7 linked regions of the Homo sapiens genome follow. The protein of the gene in region 7 interacts with the protein of the main gene of each other region in a pairwise test. Each region holds a gene or a part of one and is shown on either strand. Other genes may lie near its edges. The genes, in order: FYN, MRM1, NUP54, SGPL1, ASGR2, DHX36 and HMOX2.

The links.
Region 1: the proteins of HMOX2 (region 7) and FYN interact in binary tests that used the Homo sapiens proteins (3 or more experiments, as listed by UniProt).
Region 2: the proteins of HMOX2 (region 7) and MRM1 interact in binary tests that used the Homo sapiens proteins (3 or more experiments, as listed by UniProt).
Region 3: the proteins of HMOX2 (region 7) and NUP54 interact in binary tests that used the Homo sapiens proteins (3 or more experiments, as listed by UniProt).
Region 4: the proteins of HMOX2 (region 7) and SGPL1 interact in binary tests that used the Homo sapiens proteins (3 or more experiments, as listed by UniProt).
Region 5: the proteins of HMOX2 (region 7) and ASGR2 interact in binary tests that used the Homo sapiens proteins (3 or more experiments, as listed by UniProt).
Region 6: the proteins of HMOX2 (region 7) and DHX36 interact in binary tests that used the Homo sapiens proteins (3 or more experiments, as listed by UniProt).

Annotation. Positions count from the first base shown.
Region 1 is NC_000006.12:111,698,664-111,703,037, forward strand, and holds part of FYN (tyrosine-protein kinase Fyn), read right to left. Parts: intron 4,372-4,374; coding exon 4,222-4,371; intron 1,606-4,221; coding exon 1,441-1,605; intron 1,008-1,440; coding exon of another isoform or gene 852-1,007; intron 1-851. UniProt on the Homo sapiens protein: Non-receptor tyrosine-protein kinase that plays a role in many biological processes including regulation of cell growth and survival, cell adhesion, integrin-mediated signaling, cytoskeletal remodeling, cell motility, immune response and axon guidance.
Region 2 is NC_000017.11:36,604,074-36,607,388, reverse strand, and holds part of MRM1 (rRNA methyltransferase 1, mitochondrial precursor), read right to left. Parts: intron 1-3,315. UniProt on the Homo sapiens protein: S-adenosyl-L-methionine-dependent 2'-O-ribose methyltransferase that catalyzes the formation of 2'-O-methylguanosine at position 1145 (Gm1145) in the 16S mitochondrial large subunit ribosomal RNA (mtLSU rRNA), a universally conserved modification in the peptidyl transferase domain of the mtLSU rRNA.
Region 3 is NC_000004.12:76,134,388-76,138,761, forward strand, and holds part of NUP54 (nucleoporin p54), read right to left. Parts: intron 2,026-4,374; coding exon 1,799-2,025; intron 1-1,798. UniProt on the Homo sapiens protein: Component of the nuclear pore complex, a complex required for the trafficking across the nuclear membrane.
Region 4 is NC_000010.11:70,856,981-70,861,354, reverse strand, and holds part of SGPL1 (sphingosine-1-phosphate lyase 1), read right to left. Parts: intron 3,742-4,374; coding exon 3,665-3,741; intron 1,985-3,664; coding exon 1,856-1,984; intron 1-1,855. UniProt on the Homo sapiens protein: Cleaves phosphorylated sphingoid bases (PSBs), such as sphingosine-1-phosphate, into fatty aldehydes and phosphoethanolamine. Elevates stress-induced ceramide production and apoptosis.
Region 5 is NC_000017.11:7,107,923-7,112,296, forward strand, and holds part of ASGR2 (asialoglycoprotein receptor 2), read right to left. Parts: intron 967-4,374; coding exon 850-966; coding exon of another isoform or gene 814-849; intron 636-813; coding exon 540-635; intron 1-539. UniProt on the Homo sapiens protein: Mediates the endocytosis of plasma glycoproteins to which the terminal sialic acid residue on their complex carbohydrate moieties has been removed. The receptor recognizes terminal galactose and N-acetylgalactosamine units.
Region 6 is NC_000003.12:154,275,988-154,279,487, forward strand, and holds part of DHX36 (ATP-dependent DNA/RNA helicase DHX36), read right to left. Parts: intron 1,732-3,500; coding exon 1,611-1,731; intron 913-1,610; coding exon 760-912; intron 370-759; coding exon 184-369; 3' UTR 1-183.
Region 7 is NC_000016.10:4,482,521-4,486,894, reverse strand, and holds part of HMOX2 (heme oxygenase 2), read right to left. Parts: intron 3,259-4,374; exon of another isoform or gene 3,141-3,258; intron 1-3,140.

The sequences.
Region 1 (4,374 bases), on a different chromosome or scaffold from region 7:
CCCAGTGCAGCCAGCCTTATCAATGACAATCAAATAAAGAGAAGTATGTATCTCTACTGAATATCTACTATCTGCAAGGGACTTTAAACATATTAACCCATGTAATCCTAAAAATAATCCTTTAAATAAGTATCATTCCAGCCGGGCGTGGTGGCTCACGCCTGTAATCCCAGCACTTTGGGAGGATGAAGCTGGCAGACCACCAGGTCAGGAGATCGAGACCATTCTGGCCAACATGGTGAAACTCCGTCTCTACTAAAAATACAAAAATTAGCTGGGCGTGGTGGCAGGCACCTGTAATCCCAGCTACTCGGGAGGCTGAGGCAGGAGAATCACTCGAACCTGGGAGGTGGAGGTTGCAGTGAGCCAATATCGCGCCATTGCACTCCAGCCTAGTGATAGAGCAAGACTCCGTCTCAACAACAACAAAAAGGTATCATTCCAATTTTACAGATGAAAAAACTGAGGCTTAAAGGAGTTAAATATGCCCCTTGTTCGTGGTTAATTAGCTAGTAAGGATTCAAACCCAGGCCCATTGAGCAAAACGTCCATGGTCTTTCTTATGGCTGCCCATATACAGTATCTTACCTTCCCATTTCTTAGGAAGAGGAAACACCAGATTCATAGTGTACTGGTTTCCTGTTCTGCGGGTGCCTTAATTAACCACATGAAGTAGGACAGATGAGCACAGCAAGGTATCAGCATATTCTGAAAATCTGGATGGCCTGTGCCCGTCTAGTTATCCAGGTTAAGTGTCTTTGTCCCAACGGCTGTGTGTGCATTTTTGTTCAAAACCATCCTTTTAATCGGCTTTGAGATGCAGCCAAAACAAAATGTGCCCTCTGCCTTACCAAGCCACACTTCAGCGAAACACCCCTGACCCAGCTTCTTCTCCAGACACAACGAACGACGTGCAACTTCCCAAGCATCTTTAGCCAATCCAGAAGTTTGTGGGGTACAACTCGATGCAATCACAGTTAAGTTAAAACACAAACCATCAGCTTTCTCTACAGGAAAGGGAATTAATAAAGAAAACACAGTCCTTATAATCCATAATTATGCATGCACTAGGAAAGATGGAAGGTGACTTGCCCGTTAGGATGACACTCAACAAATATTTGCTTTTGGAAATGAAGAGCAAGATATTTTATGGCAGCTGGAACATTCCTTGGACCATTTGCTGGTTTATGAATTGAGAGTCATGTAATAGTACAACTTGAGCCATTTGCCAATTTTGCCCACTTACTATCTTTTTTTTTTTTTTTTTTTTTTTTTAGGAATTCCAGAATGTTAAAACCAAAACTGAAATTATTATTCCCCACTATTAGTAATTCAAACTTTCTTCCCGGTCACGCAGTCTTTATTTTCACCTTCCATCTTTGGTGTTTGGGATCTTCCAAACGGGGAAGCTAATAAGAGAGTAATTGAGTCTCAGCATACCCATCCATACTTCCCCAAACTGCCCATTTCCCAGTCTCTTGATCAACTGCAGGGATTCTCGAGGGATTTCCCAGACATCTTTGGTTTTGACAGACAGATCGGTAAGCCTTGGCATCCCTTTGTGACAGGGAACTACTAGGCGGCAGCAGAGACCTGCAGCTCTCTCTGATGGAGCAGGGCAGGGGCAGGAGAGGGAGAGAAGAGCAGAACACATGTAATGACAACACTCATAAGTGTAAACCCACACTAGCGGCGCACAGTGCTCCTCAAACAGTGCTACTACACCAGCAGACGACCACACACATCGTGGAACACTAGCAGCACACAGCGCTCCTTAAACAGCGCTACACCAGCAGACGACCACACACACGGTGGAAGATCAGACGCCACACACGGAAACATTTTCATTGGAGGTAGAAGAGAGGACGTTTTAAATTTAGACTACTCCATGAGCCCAGGTACGATACAGTCTATACATAGACATACACGCAGACTGCTTTGGTTTCTGTACTCACTGAGGAAGAAAAACGTTTTCAGCTCAACGTGCTAATAACATGTTTTTGGGAATGCTGAAAATATCCTTACTAATTTCAAACAGTGGTTTTGGATTAAAGAATGTCAATATGACTGTTCTTCCCCACCTTTAGTATCTAGATTACCCAGGGGATTAGGGATCTCTCTATATGACTATACTTAAAATTATAACTTTAGTGGAGGATCCTTCTATAGGACATTAAACTGTTATAAACTAGTAAGGTTGAAGATTATAACTGGTGGGGAAAAAAAGAAGTAACTTTTTTTAGTGATTTCTTCGCTTTCTAACTGATTCCATTCCACCATGTCAGATACTCCTGGGCTGCTTCTTGGATATTTTCCATTAAAAAAAAAAAAACAACTTTTTAACAGTCTTCGACGTATAATTTAGGTGTCTGGTTTGAAAGGAGAAAGAATGGAAACTAAAATTCACAGAAATTCAAGATGTGAAAGAATGTATTCTTTATAAAAAAAAGAAGAAAGGAAAAAGTAGTTAACACTCGGAGGTTTTTATTCTTTCTTTGTCTTCTTTCCTTCTTTCTTTCTCTTCTTTTTTAAAAAGAATATAACCTTTTAGAATCTGGCAGTGCTAAGGGGAACTTAAATGCCAAGTAAAAATCAGTCAGGCGAAAAAAGGTAACAAAGAATAAGAAATCAGGGAGTGACAAAAGCTGACAGAGCCTGCCTTGTGAGGTGGACAGACCTCCCGCTCCCTCCTGGCAGCCCCCGGACCCAGGGAAAGCAGATGTGCTGCTGGGCTGTAACTTGCTTTTTACTCCTTTCTTTTTGATGGAATCAGGCTCTGAGATGTTTAGGTAGGAAATTATTTATGTGTCAGCATTTCAAAGGCATTTTATTGTGTGAGAGAGAAAGAGGGAAGAGGGAAAGCCAATATAAAAACAAGTCTAACGTGAGATGGATTTTTTTTCCCCGAGATTAAAAAAAGTGTCTATTGTTCATATCCCCTCTTTCCTTCCAGCTTTACAATGTTATTAAGGTGCCCTTTCGAACACAGTATTTTCAAATGATCCAAACCCTGGGGATCCTGCTGATGTTTGGCTGTAATGAAATATATTTCAGCATTTGAAAAATCCTTACAACATGCAGGCATTTTGAGTATATCACTTAAGCTCAGGGAGATATTTTGTTCCATTTCTCCCAAATGTTTCATTAGAATCCACATAAACCGAGTTAGCCAATGCCATAATCAACTAGTACTGCAAGTGCTGTTAATATTTTCTATTGTTCATTAGTGCAAGGGATCAACAGACATTTCTTATTGTCATTTTCGAAAGATTGCTTTTTCATGCCAAAAATTATACATACATATTTCAATGATTGTGCACAGAGCAATAGTAGAGGTAAATCATATACTATTTTTGAGTCTTGCCTTTGTCCTGGAGAACAATAGAAAATGGAGAAATGGGTCACACAAAAAAATATCTCTAGGCTTAATAGGATATAGACATGTGTCTATACATGTGCACCTATATCTATAGGCACATGTGAACATGTATTATATAGTGGCATATAATACTTGCTAATCTAGGAAAGAAAGCAATCATTTTAACAATTGCACATAAAACCAGTCTTTGATAAAATGTATAAACTGCATATCTAATAATTATATGTTTTCAGAAAGAACAAAATAATGGTGATATCTGGGTGTTAGGACAGAAACTGATGTACATTATAAAAGTTTAATTTAACACAATAGACATAATAGATCTAAGAGCTGTGGGTTGTGTAAGTCTAAGCCTAGTTAGGAAACAGCAGTATTGGTGGGGAACATGATAAATGGCTTGCATGAGAATGAAATGTACGTGCAGCTATTCCTGCAACAGTGCTGAGGGTAAAGTGATAGTGGAAACACAATATTCCTTGTAGGAGTCCCCATGTAAGCGCCCTCCGAGAGACTGCTTTCTCACATGCAACGCGGGGAATGGGAAAAGACAACTTGAAGATGAAAAAACAAACAACTTTTAAAATTTAACCTATTGCTTTCTACTTGGGAAACAAAAATATTATAGAATCTTCGGACAAACATGTGGAACTAATAATAACAACAGTAGAACAATAGCAATAGAACCTATACAGCCAAGCCCTACCATTAAGGGCTGGCAAAGAAAACATACTCTATAAGTGATTTTGTACATATTAGTTTTACCCCTTTCCACTTTCCTGCTCTGGGCCTATCCACTCCCTCCAGCATCCAAATGGTTAGTAGGTAGTTAGAATTAAGGTTACCTGAGTAATGTTGTACAAGCTGCTGAAGTGTTTCAAACTGGGCCCGGGTGGTAATGTAGTATCCACCATTGTCAAGTTTGCGAATTTTATAATGTTTGACATGGTCTCCTTTCATATCATCCCAATCACGGATAGAAAGTGAATAGGCACCTG
Region 2 (3,315 bases), on a different chromosome or scaffold from region 7:
TTGGCCTCCCAGAGTGCTAGGATTACAAGCGTCAGCCACCATGCCTGCCTCTCCTATTCTAATTCATCAAATCTTCATCAGAGGCTGTATGCAGTGGCTCAAGCCTGTAATTCCAGCACTTTGGGAGGCTGAAGCAGGCAGATTACCTGAGGTCAGGAGTTCAAAACTAGCCTGGCCCAGGCACGGTGGCTCACGCCTGTAATCCCCAGCACTTTGGGAGGCCAAGGCAGGGGGATCACCTGAGGTTGGGAGTTCGAGACCAGTCTGAACAACATGGAGAAACCCCGTCTCTACTAAAAATACAAAATTAGCCGGGCATGGTGGTGCATGCCTGTAATCCCAGCTACTCAGGAGGCTGAGGCAGGAGAATCGCTTGAACTCGGGAGGCAGAGGCTGCAGTCAACCGAGATTGCGCCATTGTACTCCAGCCTGGGCAGCAAGAGTGAAACTCCATCTCAAATTAAAAAAAAAAACAAAAAACCAGGCGCAGTAGCTCACGCCTGTAATCCCAGCACTTTGGGAGGCCGAGGCGGGCGGATCACCTGAGGTCAGGAGTTTGAGACCACCCTGGCTAACATGGTGAAACTCCGTCTCTACTAAAAACACACAAAAAATTAGCTGGGTGTGGTGGCACATGCCTGTAGTCCCAGCTATTTGGGAGTCTGAGGGAGGAGAATCGCTTGAACCCGGGAGGCGGAGGTTGCAGTGAGCTGAGAGCACACCACTGCCTCCAGCCTGGGCAACAAAGCGAGACTCCACTCTGTCTCAAAAAAAAAAAAAAGACTAGCCTGAGCATCATGGTGAAACTCTGTCTCTACTAAAAATACAAAAATCAGCCTGTAATCCCAGCTACTCAGGAGACACGAGGATCTCTTGAGACCAGGAGGCAGACATTGCAGCGAGCTAAGATTGCGCCACTGCACTCCTGCTTGGGTGACAGAGTGAGACCCCCATCTCAAAAAAAAAAAAAAAAATTATCCATCAGAGCCCTGGCCAAGGAAGAGCCCAGCCTTGCCCATACATTCATTTATCTGCTGATCCAGTCAATTAGTCAATAGTTATTAAGCACCTAGCATGGGCTCTGTTCTAGGCACTGAGGACAGGGCACTGAACAAAACAAAACAGACCAAAATCCCAGCCTTGTGGAAGGGCAGGTGGGGATGGACTCACTGAGGTGACATTTGAGTGCAGACCTGAAGGAGAAGGAGGAGCACCGTGCAGACATCTGGGGCAAGAACATTCTAGGCAGAGAGATCAGCAAGCACAGAGGCAGGTGCCTCCCTGGCATGTTTGAGAACAGTAAGGTGGCCAGTGGGAAGAGAGGCGTCAAGACAGAAGAAGGAACAAGAGCCACATGAGGTATGGTCTCCAGGGCTACTGGAAGGACTCTGCCTTTGAATCTGAGCGGTACAGAGGCTTTGAAAGGTTTTGAGCAGAGAAGTAACATGGTATGACTTCAACAGAATCACTCTGCCTGCTGTGCTGAGAGCCAAGAGCAGAAGAAAGGAGGCCAGGTGGGAAGTTTCTGCAATAACGGTCAACAGATGATGGTGACTTGCTTGGGCCAGAGTGGTAGCAGTGGAAACAGGCAGAAATGGTGATAATACGGAAATAACTTTAGTTAAGGATGATGCCAAGGTTTTTGACCTAAACAACCAAAGGGATGGAGTTGCTCCAGAAGGAACAAGCGCTCAGTTTTAGAAATGTTAGGTTTGAAATGCCCGCCTGACAGCAAAACAACAACAACAATAACAACAACTGTGCAGTAGGCAACTAGATGAGTGAATCTGGAATTCAGAACCAAGGTCCAGGCTGGAGTATACACTTGGGCGGGAATTTGAATTCAGATAGTATTTAAAGCCATGAGACTAGATGAGACCAACAAGAAATGAACATATACAGAAAAGAGATCCAGGACCAGGTGAGGTGGCTCACGCCTGTAATCCCAGCATTTTGGGAGGCTAAGGCAGGAGGACTTCTTGAAGCCAGGAGTTTGAGACCAGCCTGGGCAACAAAGTGAGACCTCATCTCTACAAAAAAAAAAAGAAAAAGAAAAAAGAAAGAAAAAAATTAGGTGAGATGGTGTGCACCTGTATCTCCAACTACTCAGGAGGCTGAGGTGGGAGGATGGCTTGAGCCCAGGAATTCGGAGGCTATACTGAGCTGTGATTGTGCCACTGGACTCCAGGCTGGGCAACACAGCAAGACCCCATCTCTCTCTCTCTCTCTCTCTCTTTTTTTTTTTTTTGAGATAGAGTTTCACTCTTATTGCCCAGGCTGGAGTGCAACGCTGTGATCTCGGCTCACTGCAACCTCCGCCTCCTGGATTCAAGCAACTCTTCTGCCTCAGCCTCCCGAGCAGCTGGGATTACAAGTGCCCGCCACCATGCCCAGGTAATTTTTGTATTTTTAGTAGAGACAGGGTTTCACCATTTTGGCCAGGTTGGTCTCGAACTCCTGACCTCAGGTGATCCACCTGCCTCAGCCTCCCAAAGTTCTAGGATTATAGGCGTGAGCCACCGTGCCTGGCCAAGACCCCATCTCTTAACAACCGCTCCCGGCCAAGACCTCATCTCTTTTTTTTTTTTGACACGTCACTCTGTCACTCAGGCTGGAGTGCAGTGGCACAATCTCGGCTCACTACCACCTCCACCTCCCGGGTTCAAGCGATTCTCCTACCTCCGCCTCCCGAGTAGCTGGGACTACAGGCACGAACCACCACACCCAGCTAATTTTTTGTATTTTTAGTAGAGATGGTGTTTCACCGTGTTAGCCAGGATGGTCTTGATCTCCTGACCTCATGATCTGCCTGCCTCAGCCTCCCAAAGTGCTGGGATTACATGCGTGAGCCATTGTGCCCAGCTGACCCCATCTCTTAACAACAACAACAAAAGAGATCCGAGGACTAAAATCTGGGAAATGCTAATGCTCGGAAGTCAGGGGGTTGAGGAAGAACCACTAAAAATGTCTCTCAGAGAGGACATGGTGAAGCAGAAGGAAAGCAGGTATAGTGTTTCAAGGAGGAAGGAGTGGTCAACTGTGCCAGCTGCTGCAGATGGGTCAAGTCAGAAAAGAATTGAGAACAGACCCTGGAATGCAGCAACATGGAGGCCACTGGTGACCTTGATGAAGCCTTTGATTCAGTGTGAGAGGAAGAGCTGACTGGTGTGAGATCAAGAGCGTGAGAGGGGAATGTTTGCTTGCATGCTGAAGAGAGTGTAAGAGAAAAGTGGATGCTGCAGGAAGAGGAGGAAAATTGCTACAGCAGTGTCTCTGAGTACGCAGGAAGGGATGGGGCCCCAGCACAGGCCCCTG
Region 3 (4,374 bases), on a different chromosome or scaffold from region 7:
TAAAAAATATGTACAGATCTTAAATCAGGTGTTTAATATTAATAGCTTAATATCTGCTAAAATGGGAAAAACAACTTAATGTCTGGTAATTAAGGGAATAATGATTCTTCCCACCATTTTGTGCCCTAGGAGGTCACAAAATTATAAAGAAAAACTATTTTACCCAGGAATAACATTAACCTATAGAGTAAGATTAACATTTCCTCTTTGAGAGAGTAACTAAACAGCTTTCTCCCCTAAAAAATTTTGATATTCATTATTGTTGGTTGTTTCTGAACCATCTGCATGTCATTATAAAAGTGACTGCAAAAATCACCAACTAATTATAATTTATTTCACTATACAGATTCTCAACTTATGATTTTTCCATTTTATAGGGTGTGAAAGCAATACGCATTCATATATACATACATGTAAACCATACATGGAATTCTGATCTTTTAGTTTTTATTATAAAATTATTATTATTATAAGATGGACTTGATGTTAGATTATTCTGCCCAATTGTACACTAATGTAAGTGTTCTGAGCATGTTTAAAGTAGGCTAGGCTAGGCTATGATGCTTGGTAGGTTAGGTGTATTAAATGCATTTCTGAATTACAATATTTTCAATTATGATGGGTTTATTGGGATGTAACCCATAATAAGTTGAGGAGTATCTGTATATCTGATTCATGGAATCTTAAACTAAGTTTTAAATATATAAAGAAGTAATTTACAAATAAATACTTTTAAATCACAGTAATGACAGTCAACTTACAAATACTATAAAGAATGTCTGTATCACTTTATTGGTTTATATAATACAAAACTTTATGAAACAGGGTTGTTGTTTTTTTACATATTAATATGACCAATTATACTTTTCTAAATAATTGCTCTTTTAGATAGAAGCCTTTTATCCCTTTTCACCACTCACCTGCAACTTTTAAAAAAGAATTTAAATTAACTCAAGTGTACATTATGCATTTTACCATGTTATACACCAACTTTATTGTTATATTCAACTTATGTCTATTATTGAATACCTCTTAGCGACTAAATACATGTATCAAAATTTCAACTATATGCACTCAATATACTTTTTGTTAGTGATGACACAAAGAGATGTTCTGTAATAAGACAGGCTGACCACTTTATTCAAGGATCTGATCCTCAGCCTTACAGCTCCAAACACAGGGTTATGTACATATTGATTAGGTTTAAGAGACCAACGTAGGCCAATATAACTCCTAAGAGGCTGAGGTATAAACTGGATTGCAATACGTAATTTGTTATGGAAAATGCATTACCAAATGGACCTAAATACTCTCACTGGCTGATAAAGAGATTTTCTGAAGAGACAAATGAGAAGGTTGTTTGGTAGGCAGGGAATAAGAACACAGAAAATGGGCAATATTGTTTTAATAGCTTTGGGGTTATACATGCCAAGGGGAATTTCTGTCTGCTGGTTAGGGTATACTCTCCTGGCCAATGTTAAATGAATACCACTAAATTGTAGTTTGGTGTCTCCCCTTTACAGGTGCCAGGCAAACCATTCTCCTGTTTACATTTTTTTTCTTCAGTTATAAATCACATTCCAGTCACACCTTCCTTCATTCATATTCTGGTCACCTTCAACCACACATATGTATGAAATCACTTCAATTTTATAATTTCTATATTTTCAAAATAAAAGTATAATCATACCATGTTCAAGGAGTAAAGATCCAAGCAATTGTTATCTTGATATTAATCTAAATATATTTTCTGTTATACAAAATCTTCAACTGAAGATAAAAATAGTATTAATAATACCTTAAATCGGCAAAAGGGATTTTCTTGTGTGAATTCCACTGGCGGAATATTATTGTTGAAATACCCTTTTCCTGTTCCCCAAAAGGCCTGCAGTTGATTCCATTTTGCCAAAATAGCATCTCTCTCATCTCCCAACAGCGTTGGAGCAGAAAGAGCACTCGCAGTATTTATCAGCTGGTTGGACTGGGTAGGAGCTTGTGTAGGCTGACTGAAGAGACCACCTAATGCTAAAAATGTACCCAAAATTAGTATTTAAAAACAAAACAAAACAAAACTTAATCCAGATCCTAGGCGTGGTAGGCAAAATAATGGCCCCCTCCAAGATGCCCATATCCTAATCTACAGAACCTATAAATATGTTATCTTACATAGCAAAAGGGCCTTTGTAGATGTGATTAAATTAAGCATGCTGAGATAGAGGGTTATCCTGGATTATCAGGAGGGACTCAACGTAATCATAAGATCCTCAAAAGTGGAAGAGTGCGCTCAGAGTCAAACAGATCTGAAGATGCTATGCTGTTGGCATATGGCAAGATGGAAGAGCCGCGAGCCAAGAAATGCAGGAAGACTCTAAAAACTGGAAAATGCAAGAGAATGGATTCTCCCTTAGTGCCTCTAGAAGTAACGCAGTACTGCCAGGACCTTCATTTTAGCACAGTGAAACCCACTTCTGGACTTCTAATCTCCAGAAACTATAAAATAATAAAATTTTATTGTCTTAAGCCACTAAGTTTGTGGTAATTTGGTATGGCAGCAATAGGAAACTAACACACTAGGCCAAACCTTATAACGTTAAATTTGTTTTTCTAATAATATTTTTTTGAGACAGGGTCTTACTTTGTTGCCTAGACTGGAGTGCAGTGGCAAGATCATGGCTCACTGCAGCCTCAACCTTCTGGGCTCAAGCAATACCCCTGCTTCATCATCCTGAGTCGCTGGGACTACAGGAGTGCACCAATGTGCACCTGGTTAATTTTTTAAAATTATTTTTTGTAGAGACAGGGTCTTACTATGTTTCCCATGCTGGTCTCAAAACTTCTGAGCTCAAGCGACTCTCCTGCCTCAGCTTCCCAAAGTGCTGGGATTATAGGCATGAGCAACTGTGCCCAGCCCTAATGATGTTATCCAAATTAATTCCATTACCAGAACACAGATTGGGTCCACAATATTAAACCTACACATGAAAGAATGGAGGGAGGGAGGAAGGGATGCATGTGGATAAAAAAAAGTTTGTAAAGATGTAGGATTTTTTAAAATAACCTTTATTGCTGTTATATTTATATAATAAATACAAATTGGGGGATACAAAGTCTAAAAATCATTGTTATATCAAATACCAGCTTACTAAACATTTTCCTTTCTCTCATTATTAAAAAATATATATAGTAATAACAAATGGATTAACCATCAGTATTCTAGGCTAAAACTTTAGATGGCTGTGTAACTTTGGGCAAATCAACCTCTCTGGGATACCAATTTCTCTAATGGAAAGAAGGGCCAAGTTCTTAGGGCAGATAAATATGCCCCAAAGTGTGAGATAAGTATGTCATCTTTCAACAAAGCGAGGAGCAAGTCTAAGGCTCAGAGCTTAAGGCAAAGTTATCTACCTAGAATTTATTTACACTATATTTTCTTTGTACTTAATTTCAATTACCTTTTCCTTAGAGCAAATGATACTAATTTTCCACTTATAGCAGCAATAAATTTTACTTTAAAATAACTGTATTTCGTGTTTCAAAGTAAACTGATTTAAAGAAAATTCTTAAATAGTAATACAAATGGTATGTAGATGAGGAGAAAACGTGAATACCAAAATGACCTGAGTTTTAAAACACTGTATTAGATATTGTTTAAGTTCTCTTTCAGCTCTAAACATTGAAAGTACCACAAGGTCCATGGAGCTTCTACAGAGCTAGAGAGAGGCTCTTTTACTCTCCAGAAAAGTATTAATTCCCAAATTAGTATATATAAACATTGGCAAGAACTGGACTAGAACTCAGAACACTTGAATCCTGGTTTATTATAAGGTCGCTTTCTATCCTTGAGCAAGAAATTCCTGGGCTTTATCTTCCTCAACTTTTACATGAGATGAATCAACTGTGATCTCTATACCGAGACATATGCAGTCAGCCTCCCATGCTGTTGATTATTCCTTTGGCCCCCAAAGAAAATCTTCACCTTCTGTTGAATACACATCCTCCTTGAAAGCCCTTCTCCCTTAAATTTCCTGACAACACAGTCTCTCTTGGTTTTTTATAAACACATTCATTCATTCATTCACCATTAATTCATACAACAAATATTTACTGAGTACCTACTAAGTGCTCAGAGCCAAATACTAAAGATACAGTGGTAAACAAGGTAGACAAGGTGCATTAAACAAACTGAACACATCAAACAAATATTAACAATTGTGATAAGTCCTTCAGAGAAGTACAGAGGTTCTGGGAGTACTAAATAAGGGAGCTGATCAAGCCTGAGAGAGGGGTCAAGAGAAGACAGTTCCATTAGCACTTCAGTTAGGGCCTAAAGGAAGGAGTCAGCTAAGCCATGGGGTAGAGGTAAAGGCCAACAGT
Region 4 (4,374 bases), on a different chromosome or scaffold from region 7:
ATGCCTTTGTAGGTAATCTATTTTCTCTGGCTGCTCTCAAACACCAGTTAGATGTGTGTTAGCCTTCTCATCCTATCCTTTGCATCTCTTAGCCTCTCTTTCATACCTTCTATTTCTTTGTCTCTCTGGACTGCATTCTGGTTAACTTTTTTTTTTTAATCTGTCTTGTTCCATAAATGTGATTTTGGAACTATGTAATTATTTTACCTAGTTTTAAATGAACCAGGGCTCCTTGGATAAATGGCTGATTGAAGGCCTGGAGCAGGAAATGGACAAAGTGAACCTGAACCTGGAATATTTCGTCAAAAAAAAAAAAAAAAGGAAAGAAAGAGAAAAAAGGCTTTCAAAGATTACTTGGGTCATGTAAATGGACCTAGGAGCCAATATGATGTTTCCACTGGCCAAAGATGGATGAGGCAATTTGTACATCAATCTGAATAAGAGCTACAATGGATTGAGGCACACACAGCATTCCACAATTTATTCATCTGTGTCCTGTGGATAGGCATTTGAATTACTTCCAGTTTTTAGCTATCATGAATAACATTGCTATGAATATTAATGTCCATATATCCTGATATATATGTGTACTAATTTTTCTAGAGTATGTCCTAGTAGCAGAATTTCTGGGTCATAAGATATATGTATCTTCAAATTTACCAGATAAGGCCAAACTGTTCTGTGGCTATTCACTCTGGCCTCTTACAAGTTCTTCAAGAGTCTAATGGCATAGGAGAATATACTGTAAGTACATTATCATCTTCCCTCTGAAAGTCACCCTGTTCACCTCAGTACTCTAAGGGAAACTGCTGCTGTATTATGGGTGGTTCTGTTTTTAACAGTTTCAGTATTTTGCTTTGAAAATGAATGCCAGGCATATCACCTTTATTACTACTAATATTTGAACATGATGATTTTCATGGCGCCAACATATTAGAAAAACAAAACAAAAACAATGCTTCCTGGAAAAAAAAAAAGAAACTAAATTAGGTGCTCTTCGAATGGGCCCTTCAATAATTAAATCTGCAGTCTTTATAATGACTGCAAATATGATGAGTATCTGATAGGATTAGCACCTCTAGGACACCATTGCAGCATATTGAGTTAAATCTATCTATCCTACATAACCTGAGATTTCGTTTTTTCTAAAGACAACAGATCTAAACAGAAGTTTATCTATCATAGTTTACGAAAACTAACAACCATCTACTTGAAAGAACAGGTAAAACAAAGAATCCTCATGTGTTTCTTTAAATATAATGATGTCCTCCCCCTTTCTTTATGCCTAATAGCAACTAAATGAGGTTCAGTTTACAGCAAAATAATAAATTAAACTTTGGCTCAGGTAAAACCAGAAGTACACTAAAAACACTGCTGGATGGAACAACAAAAGTATACACAGATAAATAGGGGAATGGTAGGTATGCAGGTGGGGGATGAGGGAAGAAGCGGGTAGGGAGGGAAAGAGTGTAGAGAGCAGATATGGCAACATATTTACATTTAGTGAATCTAAGGTGTTCTTTAAGCCATCCTAGCAACTCAATGTAGGTTCAAAGTTTTTCAAAATAAAAAGGTGAAAATAAAAATATCTAGAAGAATATATACCAAAATGTTGACATTGTCTAGGTTACAAAATTACAAGTAACATTTAAAACTGCAGTTAATTAGGATCTTTCTACAATGATCAAATATTCCTTGTGTAGTAAAATGACCTTTCTACAATGATCAAATATTTCTTGTGTAGTAAAATATTTTTAATATTTTTTATTTTTTAAAATATAATTAATATTTATTAAAAACTCTTCTATTTTAACCTAAAAAATAAGGCTATTGGATGCCCCTTGCATATACTTACACATCCACACGAATCTGGTCCCCCATTGAACAGGGAACAAGCTATCCTCACGATTTCTGCCTCTATCTTGCGTAGTCCTGGGAAGATATCTGGATGCAGGGGGTTACTCCATGCAAAATCTCCATAAGCCTGCAAAAAAATGCAAGCAGATGTGAAATCAAAACTATTACACTATACAGGACAAAGAATCATGCACTAAACAACAGTTTCTAAGTATTAGGCACAACAATATAAACTGGAAAAAAAGATAAGATATATTCCTCAACCAAAAGATCAAAACATAGCAGAGGAGACAGACATGTAAATAAATAATTTTACAATGTGATGAGGAAAGAAGTATAAATATGGTTAAAAGCGCAGACTATAACACCAAACCGACCCAGGAGGAAGTCTAAGCTTTGCCTATTACTTTCAGCTGTGTAGGTCACATAATCTAAGGTTGTTTCTTCATACGCAGAAGTTGTTATGGTAGCTATCTTCTAGTGTTCTAGCAATAATTAAATAACATAATGCATGTGAAGCACTTAGTAGAGTGTCTGGCACAAAGCAGCTGTTGTTATCGACTGCAATATCAGGTGTGTGTACAGAGTGCTAAGGGACCCTGAAGAGGGAACAACTAACATCCTGAGTGATCTAGAGGTGTCTGCTGAGTGGAACTTTGAGAGATGAGTAGGAATCATCATTTGGAACAAGAGGAATGATGGAAGGGAAGGAAAACAACGTAAAAGCATGACACATTTAGTAAAGAGAAAAGGCAGGATTAGTGTTTATGTGGGAAATGAAGAGAAGTAGTTAAGAAAAAATAAGTGGGAGCTGGCTCATGAAGAAACTTGTATTCTCTGCTGCATAAGAACCTGAGTTTCATCCTGTAGATAATGGGAAGCTACTGAAAGATTTTAAGCACAGAAGATCAGAGCATTACACCAACTTATGCAAAACCTGCCATATTTATTTAGTAAGGGACAGTTTCATATTTATAATAATCAAACACAAAGACCTTAGAGATCATCAGTACAACCCCAATTTTATATGATGAAGTGGAGTTTCAAAAATAAATATGAGGGCCGAGTGCAGTGGTTCACAGCTGTAATCTCAACACTTTCAGAGGCCAAGGCAGGAGGATCACTTGAGGCTGGGAGTTGAAGACCAACCTGGGCAACAGAGTGAGACCCCATCTCCAACAAAAAAATACAAAAATTAGCTGGGTGTCATGATGCACGCCTGTAGTCCCAACTACTCAGGAGGCTGAGGTGGGAGGATCACTTGAGCCAAAGAGGTCAAGGCTGAAGTGAGCCATGATTACACCACTCCACTCCAGCCTGTGTGACAGAGTGAGACTTTGTCTGTAAAAATAATAAAATAAAATAAAAATAAATTTGATTAGAAATGGAAGAAGCTAAGAATGAGAATTATTTGAAGTATACATGAGACCACTGCTCATCTTGGGTCACATGATTTGAGAAAATTATGAAAGAGTTTCCCTATCTTATCTCTTCTTATCAAACAAAATCTGTCTCACCACAAAAATCTCATCTGACAGGACTACCTTCCCTAGTAATCTGCCTTCTAGACAGGACATCTGCAAAGACTGAAAACATAAATAACATTTTACTATTTTACAGACTGAAGATGTCTTTGATAATATTATACATATTCGCCTATGTTTGGGTGAAGAGAAACTTTTATGGTTTTATTGTACCAATAAGCTTTCCTTAAGTAATTTTTCTAATTACAAAAGTAAGGGAAAAAAAGGAGGTCATGTAAACTGGCACAGACCTCACAGGCTTCCCTCAAGAACTGGACACTCACCTTCACAAGGAGCTCAGTGAGCTTCTCCTCCCCACTGTACACTGTTCCAGAGGCTCTCCCCTCTTGCCAGAAGGCGTCTGCAGAGAAAGGTAAGGTCACTGGTCAGTAAGCAAGAATCTCTGGGAAGACAGGTTCTGATAAAGAAGAAACAGGAAGAAACTCCTCTGGATACAAAAGAAAAAAATGTTGAGTGGAAACCCAACAGCATTCTTATAGCAAATCAAGAAAAAAGTTCAATAGAGTTAGCACAATAAAATAAAGATGAAAAATCATTATTATCAGCAATGTGAAAAAGATATTAATAGCATTTAGCTACAATAAAGGCAATCTGATAATAATGTTGTCCTCATCCTCAACTGCCTTCTAACAGCAGGAACATTTGCCTTTGTCTATACTTATTTTTTGTTCTCTATATGGCTTTGGAGTGGCCTTTTTCTGCAATAGCTTCCTTCTTCTCTCCTTTCCTATCCAGTCCTAGGAATTTTGAGAACTATTATGAGCAGAGTTGGCAGAAGAAAGCAAAATGAAAAGTGTGAAATTTCAGCACACTATCATCAGAGATGAAACCAGCAAACAAACCACAATGAGGTATAAACCATGAGCACCCCGGTCTCAGACGCCGGCTCCCTTAAGCCAAGCCTGGAAACCCACATAAAACTAGTTACCTGCTTCCAGCAGCACACGCTGTAGCATATTCAAGATCAGGAACA
Region 5 (4,374 bases), on a different chromosome or scaffold from region 7:
CAGCTGTTTCCCCGCTGAGCCTCCCTCCGTCCTCATGCTGCTGGGGGACCGGGGGCCAGCGCCTCGTCCTGGGCGATGCAGGCGTCCACCTCCTGGCTTCCTGGACCACACCCAGGCTCCCTGCACTGCCACAGTGGCTCAGGCCACTCTCCTGCTTCAGTCCCTTCAATGGGTCCCCATTTTCTCAAAATAAAGCCTCGCTCTGTCAGCACGGCTCACCTGCGTGGCCGGGCCCCTCCCCACCTCTCTCTGGCCACCCCTTACCTGCCTGCCCCTCCGATGGGCCTGCCACACTCGATTTGCTCACAGGCCCAAGACATGGTGCCTTCCTCACCTCCGGGTGTCGCAGATCCAACCTCTCCACCTGGCACTAACCTCGTCCGTCCCCACCTGCCTCCCTCCTATACATCCCCCAGGGCCCCTGGACGCCTTGCCCAGCCTGCACCCCCACGGCACCCCACACAGCCCTGTTGCAGACTCGGCACTGAGCCCAGCAAACCTGTGCGGATAAATGAGAACCCAGCCGTCCAGCCCCTCACCGTGGGTGCTGATTGCCTGGACCTCCGTCAGGGTGCTCGAGGAGAAGTTGCTGAAAGCTTCCTTCAGGCTCCGCAGCTCGGCTTGCAGCTGTGCACCTTGTCAGGTGGTAGTGGGGGCAGGATGAGGCAGAGGGGCCGTGTCCCCATCACTGTCCATGTGACTGGCCCCTCAATGTCCCCGCATTTGCCCCAGCTTGTGCTCCACCCCGCCTCCATCCCTTCCCCTCCCATCGCCCCGATCGCTGCCCGCCACTGCCCATGTCTCTTTCCCTACCCCTTGCCCATCCCTGCTGGCCCCCGTGACCCTCACTTTGGGACCCAGTCACACAGATGACCACCAGCAGCAGGATGTTGAAGCTCAGGGCAAGCAGACTGAAGCAGACCATGGAGCAGAGACGCTGTGCCAGGGGCTGGGCAGGAGGTGGCCCTGTGGGAGAGGGGCATCAGGAGCCGGCAGCCTGGGTGTGGGGAGCCGGAGGGTAAAGACAGGGCACCGAAGCCTGAGGAGGCATAACCTGGGCGGGGGGATTGGTTGGGGCCATGGGGGGGGGTCATCATAGGCTTTGACCCCAGCATTTGAGCATTACACACACACTCTTACACACTCGCACCCATATTACCATGTATAAATATACACACGCAGCTAATCTGGTGCACACACACCCATGCACACGACTCAGGATATTCACATCAGCTGTGTGCAAAGCCCGGATCCTGGAGCTGGGGGACTGGGAGACGCACAGGGGGCGGGGGGGCAGACCCGGCCCTGCCTAGGCACACATCCTGAGAAGGGGGATCTGTGAATGGTTTTCCTCCCATCCAGCCAGTGGCAGAGGCCTCCAGATCACCTCGGGCCTTAGTCTCAGCTCTTCTAAGGCTCCTGTCCCCTCAGATTGGAGACTCCAGAAGCTGGGCCCTGTGTTCTTCCTAAAATCCATACTGGAACAGTCCCTCCCCTGCCAAAATTCCATTGAGATCCTTAAATCTGGGTCATTCCACCATAGCCCACTCTCCAAGCACAACCCTCCAGGTCCCACCTGTTGTCCTCATCCCCCACCACGCAAGGCCTCCTCCCCAGCGCCCTTTGCCCTCGCTTCCCTAGAAACCTCGTTCCACACTAAATTTGCTCCCCTCAGCCCGAGGTCATCTCACAGGTACCTCTCCTGCCCCTTGATCCATCTGCACCCTGACAGCACTGACACACACATTCACATGCCCTCACAAACTCACACACACTCACACACTCACACATTGCTCACTTCACTCAAAAACACACATTTGCACACACTCATGACCACGCTCTGCTGTACCCACTCTCACATGTGCATATGCATGCTAATGCACACATTCATACTCCCTCCCACACACACACACCTGACACACCCACACACGTACACTCACACACCCACGTCTTCCTGCACACAGAGCTGGGCTCCCTCTCTGCTGCCTCCAGACCCAGAGCAGCTCCAGTTGTCCCAGCCCTGAGCTCCTCTCTTTGCAGCATCCACCTGCAAACAGAACACCTTCTAGGCCTTGGACCCTGACTCTGTGGACTTCCTTGTCTTCTCATTCCTATCACCCCCCGACCCAGCAGGACCACATCCTGGGGAGGCTCAGTCAGGGGCCCAGAATCTTCCTCCCCAGGTCACTTCCTGCCACTGTCCTGAGTCAGACACTGCCCCTGTAAGTGACTGTCCATAACTCTTCATCTTTTTCACACCAGTGACTTCCACCTTCCCCACTGCAGCCACACTCAGGACCCCATTTGACCCAGGGAGGCCTCTGACACCTCCACTGCCCACTCCCGCTCTGAGCACAGCCCCACCCTCCCTCTCACTGCCCCCACCCCTTCCTCCAAGGCCTTTGCATTCCTCTCCATCCAGAAGCGCTCCATGACCACGGTGTTCCCCACCAAGCTGGCCCTCCATGGCTGAGTCCCTGACTGCTGTCTTCAGCACCCTCCACTCAGAGGGTCCTGTCCTGCTTCCCAGTCCGACTTATCAACTCCCAATGCTGGGTCAGCCCAGCAACGTGTCTGTATATCCACCCTGAAACCAGACTGCCCACAGGGTAGCCCAGCTGTGCCTCCAGGTAGCTCTGAGATCATGCACCAGCATTCAATTTCTCCATGCTTCCATTTTCTCGTGTGTAAAATGGAGATCACAGTCGTAGCTACCCGATTGGATTGCTCGGATAATTAGATGAGTTAAAATATGTAATGTGCTTCTTAGGCAAAAGTTTGAACATAAAAGACAGGGTCTGCCCAAGATGGGAAGAGTTCTTCTCTCCCCAGAAACAATCAAAACAAAAACAGACAACTATAGAACATGGCAGCTTTCAAGACTCTGGACATCAGGCAAGGAGGAGTAAAGATCCCTGAGGGATAAGAAGCAAACAACAGGAACCCTCCGATCACCCCAGCTTACTGTTTGGAGAGAGTCTGCAGGTTACAGGCCAGGAAAGGGAAGTCCAGGCAGAGCCCAAGAGACTCCCCACGTTGAGGAGATGGAGCTGAGAGTCCGAGGAGACCAAAACAATTAAGAGTTCAAACGATCAAACTGACTCTAAGTTGCTTAACTGCATCCCGGAGCAAAGCTCAAGAACATTTAGAGGAATACAAAAATATCCAGCACCCAACAAGGTGAAATTGACAATGTCTGGCAGCCAATCAAAGATTACAAGGCATGCAATGAAACGGGAAAACACAATGCATAACGAGGAGGTTCATAAATATCAAAAGAGATCCAGAACTGACACGGATGCTAGAATTAGCAGGCAAGGATGGTAAAACAGATATTATAGCCATATCCCATTATGTTCAAAAAATTAAGTAGAATTGTGGAGGATATTTAAGAGTCCCCAGGTGAACTTCTAGAGATAAAAACTACAATGTCTGAAATGAAAAAACACACTGGCCAGGCGCCGTGGCTCACGCCTGGAATCCCAGCACTGTGGGAGGCCAAGGCGGGCAGATCATGAGGTCAGGAGATCGACACCATCCTGGCTAACATGGTGAAACCCCATCTCTACTAAAAATACAAAAAATTAGCCAGACGTGGTGGCAGGCGCCTGTAGTCCCAGCTACTCGGGAGGCTGAGGCAGGAGAATGGCATGAACCCGGGAGGCAGAGCTTGCAGTGAGCCAAGATCGCGCCACTGCACTCCGGCCTGGGCAACAGAGCGAGACTCCGCCTCCAAAAAAAAAAAAAAGAAAAGAAAGAAAAGAAAAAACACACTGGATGGAAATAATGGAAGATGAGAAATGCGTAAGAAAAATTTAGGGCCAGGCACTGTGGATCACATCTGTAATCCCAGCACTTTGGGAGGTCGACACGGGGGGAATCACTTGAGCCCAGGAGCTCAAGACTAGTCTGGGCAGCATGGCAAAACCCCTCTACATGGCAAAACCGTCTCTACAAAAAAAAATTTTTAATTAGCCAGGTGTGGTGCCACATGCCTATAGTCCCAGCTACCTGGGAGGCTGAAGTGGAAGGATCGCCTGAGCCCAGGAGGTGGAGGCCACAGTGAGTTGTGACAAGCTACTGCATTCCAGCCTGGGCAACAGAGTGAGATGAGAGAGAGAGAGGGGAGGGGAAGCGAGGGAAGGAAAGGAGGGGAGGGGAGGGGGAGGGGAAGGGGAAAATTTTAGTTAACTTAATGAACAGCAATAACTCTATAAAATGAAACACTGGGAGAAAAAAGAATTAAAAAATGGAAAGAGAATGAGTGAGCTGTGGGACCCTTAATACATGCATAATTGAAATCTTTAAAAGAAAAAGGGGGTAGCAGAAAAAAATCAAGTGCTGAGACAAGTGGAAGATGGGCCCCGGTGAGCA
Region 6 (3,500 bases), on a different chromosome or scaffold from region 7:
ATATATATATATATCTCTACATATAACATCAAGTCATGCACATTAAGTCTTTACTACCTACTGAAGGCTTCTACCTTACACATGAAAATTGTTCATGTCCCAGGGTTTGGCATCCAGCCAAAATTTAAACAATGATGAAGAATGGCTGTCAAACTGGCTTTTCAGACCACCCCTGAAAAGCTGTCAGCTGTAATATCCATCCTGGAATCGTGGCGGAAAGTTCCTGGGAGTTGCCTTTTCCTGTGTTTTGATCAAGTCTATAATAGCTGACAGTACTGCACAGTCTCTGGATTTAGTGTCATTCCAGTCTACAGGATGAGGACTTTCAATCTTCTCTTGCAGAAGAATATCTAGTTCCTTTCTTAATTCCTAAGGTTGGAAAAATTATACATGTTCAACAAAGGCAGATATATTACCAAATAACATAATAAATGAAACTAATTTACCTGATACAAGGAGTTTCACAAGCGATGGCTCAAAAGCTAAAACATTTAGTGAGCAATCAACTAAAGTGTGGTTATGAGTGAATAACTAAAGTGCAGTTAAAATTCACACTGCAATCACACTGAGCCATTTAGAATGGCTGGTCTGTTACCACCTCAAAACACAATTCAGAAAAACCAGGAATCATTTTTTCAAAATTATTTGCTCTGCTGAAATAGAGCAAGAAATGTTAATCTATTTAACAGTTAGAACAAAACCACATGACCACATGCTGACTTACATGTAGATTTAAGATAATCACATAAAGTCAGTCACCTTAACAAGATGGGCAATTCTTGCTGGAGACTGAAATACAATCCACTCATCTACAGCAATAGTTTCCTGATCGTTATCCTTCTGGATGGAAATGTCACCTCCAAAAAACAAGAGACAGTATGGGGAAACCTCTGTGCAGTCATACAAGTATATCTGTAATGAAAATTAAAGTGAATTAATACATTCAGGAGTCTGAAAAGATTACTATATAAATTCAACAATATTACCAGTATTAATTAATGAGTATCTTCCTTCTAAAATATTAACCTTCTATTGTAATTACAGAGATTTGTAAGAAATACCATTTTAAATGAGCCATCTTCATTATTCAGAGAACATAGGTATTTTAATATTTTTTAGTTTAAACTAAGCACTACTCTGAACAAAATATTTTCTGAGTGACAAAAGCAAAACACTAATGTTGCCGAAGTTATTTTTATCCAGTTTTTTATAAATCATCTCAAATTACTGTTCTAAAGAGAAAAATATAAATAAACAGAATCTCAACATGCTGAACAATACTTATAAGGTATACTGACATGCTAACAAAACTTTCTATACAATGTAAACTCCTGTACACCATAAAATATGCCAATATTTCTTGAAAGCAAGTTCTGAAAGAAAATTATGCAATCAAATAACTGTCCTAACTAATTAAAATACAAAGATCCATCATTACAGACCTGAAAATTAAAAGAATAGGTTATTTGTTAGAGGGAAAAAGTTACTCACGTCACAGGAATAAGACACAACAAAAAAAAAATTTTGTATATAATTGTTAAAACTACACAATCATAAAAATACAATGAGACTGATAATCAGATCCTTAATTATTTTAAATGTTCACTTACACTGCTTGTTCTCATCTTTAGGTGATAGATAAGCCAGTTGTAGTGAAAGTCTGTTTGCTCCACATTAACAGATTTAGGATGAACAGCAACCAGGCCATCGGTTTTTGTGTAAACTTTTACCCTTTAAAAAAAGTTAAAATGCAGTTTGTTAAAAAGAAGTCTTCTAGAGGATTTTCTTTTTTTACACTACTTGAAAAACTGATAGAAGAGCTTGGTAAAAACCAAACAAATCCCGGAATCTAAAAAAATTCCAGAGAATAATTCAGTTTATTTTTGCAAAAAAATATATTTATATTTGAGGACAGAGCATAATTTCCTTAAAAATATATGAAAAAATGCTATCAGTATGAATAATTTAAATCATGTAACTAATCTTCTTCTTGCAGGTATAATTACTCAACATTTTAGAAAAATGGCAGAATATTCTTTTCCTTAATGTTAATGCACACTATACCACTGAAGAATAAATAACAAAAAAGTACCTAAAATAATTAAGTGATTCATACCAAGAGTTTATACATTTTACTATGACAATCATAATACTGATAAACAGCCCTTGATTTACAAAATAACTGTAAAATTATCAACTTAAAAATTTTACAGAGTATGACCCAGATGAATAAAAAATGAAAAGTTAAGAATTCTGTTTAAATTCATGTTGACAGTTCTAATTCAATCTCTCAATTCCTAGGTCATTTTTTTTTTGATAGTCATACACATTTTATCTCAATTTGTAAAAGTCTTTAGTATTATTCAACAGGGAGATGTTTAATAATTTATTTTTAAATAGTTAATGTTAATTACCTGTATTAACTAACAGCATAAAAGCTAATAATCCACTAATCTTTCCTATTTGTTTTTACGAGTGTCTCTTTCGAAGTTTTTTTTTTTTTTTTTGAGACGGAGTCTTGCTCTGTCACCCAGACTGGAGTGCAGTGGCCCAATCTCAGCTCACTGCAGCCTCCGCCTCCCGGGTTCCGGCGATTCTCCTGCCTCAGCCTCCTGGGTAGCTGGGATTACAGGCATGTGCCACCACCATACCCAATTAGTTTTTGTATTCTTAGTAGAGATGGGGTTTCACCACGATGGCCAGGCTGGTCTCAAACTTCTGACCTCAGGTGGTCCGCCTACCTTGGCCTCCCAAAGTGCCAGGATTACAGGTGTGAGCCACCACACCCGGCCACTTCTGAAGTTCTAAGAATTCATAAGACTTGTAATCAAAATCATGAATCATGGTTATGAATTTACAGTTTTAAATACTTAGAATAAAACCAGAAATTATTTTTTCTCACTTCAAGTCAATTTACCAATGCCATCCTGCCACCCTGCATAACTAGAGCAGTAGAACTTCACAAATTTCTTTTTTCTTTTTTTTGAGACAGGGTCTCGTTCTGTCACCCAGGCTGGACTGCAGTAGCATGATCTCTCAACGTGCAGTGGTGTGATCTTGACTCACTGCAACCTCCACCTCCTGGGCTCAAGTAATCTAACAGCCTCAGCCAACCAAAGTGCTAGGATTACAGGTGTGAGCCACTGTGCCTGGCCCAGCAAATTTCTATACAGGACCAGAGAGTAAATATTTTAGGGTCTATATTTGGGGCTCTATAATTTCTGTCCAACTCTGCTAGTGTAGAAGGAAAGCAGAATAGACAACATGAAAACAACATGTTTGTGTTCCAACAAAAAAAGGACAAAAACAAGTTTTTGGCCTATAGGTCAAAATTTGCTGACCCCTAGTCTGGACCAAAACAATGCACCAGTCCAAAGAAAACTACATTTTTTCAGAAAGCCCTCCCAGGATGGCAGAGAGGAAAATAAAATGAATTTCAAAGTGACTCACTGTTAAGCTACCTGTAAAGTTAGGTACACACATACAAAAAAATTTCTGGC
Region 7 (4,374 bases):
GGAAAGAGAAAGGGGGCCAAAAGGGACTGAGCTCAGCTCCTCATTCCCCTCAGGACCTTGAGCTTGGCCTAGTTTGCTCAGCTGTGGTCTAGGAGACATAAGATATTCAATTAAACATTTGCTGGCTACCATTTCCCACTACCTGTGCTAAGTGACCAGTGGCTCTGGGCACGGTCTCTTATCTTAGGCCTGTATGTCCAAATCAACAGTGGGAAGCTGGGCCTGGATTAGCCACTGTTCCCAGACCTGACCTGCCCAGAGTTTTCTGGCAGCTAGGCCAGAGCTCCCTCTACTCTTTCACATATCATTTCCAGTTGCCCACTAGTTCCTTGAAAAGTTCGTGACCTTCCAAAAAACCATGTAGTTTCTGTGTCTTCAACTCACCTCATCCCCAGCATTGGTACTGAGCTCTAACCCTGTATTAGGGACAGACATACTCTAATCAGCTGTCCTTGACAGACCTTGAGCTTCAAACACTTCTGCCTCACCCACACTAGCCAGTTAAGTTGCTGTGGCCTCAGCAGTCCTCTCCTAGGAACCAGATTAGACCACTGCCTACACATGGGGACACGCTGTCCTTTGGACAAGTACTCAGGCAAGTCCCTTGACAGTTGGTGTTTGGTAAAAGGCTGTTTGTTTACAAAGGAATGTCCTAGGGTTTCTGTCTTTAATCTACTCAAATACTTCCTTTTTTGAACACAATTTGTGTTTGAAGACACAAATTAAGAGATGTGTACTTTTGAAGATGGGAAGAAAGGGTACTTGTCAGAACAATCCTTATCCTTTTTTGGTTGCAAATCCCTTTCAGAATCAGAGCAAGGCTTCAGATTCTCTCTCCAGGACAATCGTATGGTTTAAAAATGTTGCCTGTGGCCAGGCATGGTGGCTCAAGCCTGTAATCCCAGCACTTTGGGAGGCTGAGGTGGGTGGATCACCTGAGGTCAGGAGTTCGAGACCAGCCTGGCCAACATGGTGAAACCTTGTCTCTACTAAAAATGCAAAAATTAGCCGGGCGTGGTGGCAGGTGCCTTAATCCCAGCTACCTGGGAGGCAGAGGTAGGAGAATTGTTTGAACCCGGGAGGCAGAGGTTGCAGTGAGCCGAGATCAAGCCATTGCACTCAAGCCTGGGGGACAAGAGCGAGACTTCTCTCAAAAACAAAAACAAAAATAAAAACAAAAACAAAAACAAAAAAATCAATCCCTGTTCTAAAAGGAGTCTATCAGTGACATTCTCTTTTTATGGGTAAAGTTTTCAGTAAGACCCTGAGTGCTCTAAGAAGGGTTTCTTCTTTCTTTGGCCTCCTTCCTTCTCTTCCCTTCCTCCTCTGTCCTAATGGGTTCAGTACAAGTTCTCCCATTTTCTCCATTTCTCCACTCTTTAACTTCCCTGGCCTCTCAAAACTCTCATAAACCTTACAAAGTGATTTTACTGTTTTGTGTCTTCCCACAGTTACTACCAGCTCCTAGTAAACAAAGACTATGCTTGGTTTGTTGTTGTATTTGCACATCCCCTCAGTGCCAATACTCTGCATACCTTAGAAGCTCAATACAGTACAGTCAGCCCTCCATATCCATGGGCTCTGCATCAGTGGATTCAACCAACCTCAGATTAAAAATATTCAGAAAAAGGCCTGACATGGTGGCTCACCCCTGTAATCATAGCACTTTGGGACGTGGAGGTGGGTGAATCACTTAAGGTCAGGAGTTCGAGATCAGCCTGGCCAACATGGTGAAACCCGGAATCTGCTAAAAATATAAAAATTAGCCGGGGGTTGTGGCAGGCACCTGTAATCCCAGCTACTCGGGAGGCTAAGGCAAGAGAATCGCTTGAACCCAGGAGGTGGAGGTTGCAGTGAGCCAAGACTGCGCCACTGCACTCCAGCCTCGGTGACAGAGTGAGATGCCGTCTCAATCAACCAATCAATCTTCAGGGAAAAAAAAAACAACAGATGGCTACATATGTACTACACATGTACAGATTTTTTTTCTTGTCATGATTACCTAAACGATACAGTATAACAACTATTTACATAGCACTGTATTGGGTATTATAAATACAGATGATTTAAAGAATACAGAAGATATGCATAGGTTATATGCAAATTCTATACACCATTTTATATAAGAAACTTAAGCTGGGCACAGTGGCTCATGCCTGTAATACCAGCACTTTGGGAGCCCGCGGCAGGCGGCTCACCTGAAGTCAGGAGTTCGAGACCAGCCTGGCCAATATGGTGAAACCTCACCTCTACTAAAAATACAAAAATCAGCCAGGCGTGGTGGTGCACACCTGTAATCCCAGCTACTCGGGAGGCTGAGGCAGGAGAATCATTTGAACCCGGGAGGTGGAGATTGCAGTGAGCCGAAATCGTACCACTGCACTCCAGCCTGGGTGACAGTGCAAGACTCCGTCTCAAAAAAAAAAAAAAAAAAGAAAAGAAAAGAAACTTGAGCATCCTGGATCTTGGTACCCTTGAGGGGTCCTGGAACTAATCTCCACAGATACTGAGGGATAACTATATATACTTCTCAAATGGCCTCATACTACTGTTTCTTGATCCTTCTACCTTTAGGCATTTGGACTTGAATGTGGTGCCTCCTTTAAAATTTGGGCATATGAGGCCGGGTGCAGTGGCTCACGCCTGTAATCCCAGCACTTTGGGAGGCCAAGGTGGGTGGATCATGAGGTCAGGAGATTGAGACCATCTTGGCTAACACGGTGAAACCCCGTCTCTACTAAAAATACAAAAAATTAGCCGGGCATGGTGGCGGGAGCCTGTAGTCCCAGCTACTCGGGAGGCTGAGGCAGGAGAATGGCGTGAACCTGGGAGGCGGAGCCTGCAGTGAGCCGAGATCGCACCACTGCACTCCAGCCTGGGCGACAGAGCAAGACTCCGTCTCAAAAAAAAAAAAAAAAAAATTTTTGGGCATATGCACGGGTGTGATACTGTAATTTAGAAGAAGATACAGAGATAAATTTGAGGCTGGATGCAGCGGCTCATGCCTGTAATCCCAGCACTTCAGGAGGCTGAGGTGGGCAGATCACTTGAGGTCAGGAGTTCAAGACCAGCCTGGTTAATATGGTGAAACCCCGTCTCTACTAAAAATACAAAAATTAACCAGGTATAGTGGCGCACACCTGTAGTCCCACCTACTCGGGAGGCTGAGGCAGGAGAATCGCTTGAATCCGGGAAGCGGAGGTTGCAGTGAGCCGAGATAGCGCCATTGCACTCCAGCCTGGGTGTCGCAGCAAGACTCTGTCTCAAAACACAAACAAACAAAAAGATTTATAGATATATTTGATCTGCACCCTAGGTTCCTGGCACAGAGCTCCTAAAACCTTTGTAGATGGGGGCACTAGGAGAATCCTTCATTCTGATATTGGTCTTTAACCTCAGTTCCTGACACAGAGCTCCTAAAACTTTTGTAATTTCCTAAATCCCTTGGAATTTCCTGGGTAATAGGAGCATCTTTTGTTGTAAGTAAGTAACTCTTGGTGGGCTCCTAGATGGGGGCTGATTGCCTGGGGAACCAACCATGTGATTAGAGGGTGGGAACTTTCAGCCCTACCCCCTTAACCTCAGGGGACGGGAGAAGGTCTAAAGGTTGAGTTGATCACCAGTGGCCAATAACGTATTCAATTATGCCTTTGTAATGAAGCCTCCATAAACACACACACACACACACACACACACACACACACACACACACACACACACACACACACACACACCAGGGTTTGCATTAGCTTCAGGATAGCTGAATACACGAAAGTTCCAGAGAGGGCGTAGAAGCTTCATGCCTCTTCCTACATGCCTCACCCTATACATCTCTTCCATCTGGCTATTCATCTGTATCCTTTTTTTTTCTTCCAGTCTGTCGCCCAGGCTGGATGGAGTGCGGTGGCGTGATCTCATTTCACTGCAACATCTGCCCCCAGGGTCCAAGCGATTTTCCTGCCTCAGCCTCCCTAGTGGCTGGGACTACAGGCATGCACGACCACACCCGGCTAATTTTTTTGTATTTTTACTAGAAATGGGGTTTCACCACATTGGTCAGGCTGGTCTCAAACTCCTGACCTCAGGTGATCTGCCCTCCTTGGCCTCCCAAAGTGCTGGGATTACAGGCATGAACCAGCACGCCCAGCCATCTGTATCCTTCTTAATATCCTTTAGAGTAAATTGGTAAATGTAAGTAAAGTGTTTTCCTGAGTTCTGTGACCCACTCTAGCAGATTAATCAAACTCGAGGAGGGATTGTCAGAACTTTCGATTTATAGCTAGTAGGTCAGAAGTATAGGTGACAATTTACTACTTGTGACTAGTGCCTCAAGTTGGGACAGTTTTGTGGGACTGAGCCCTCAATTGGTGGGAT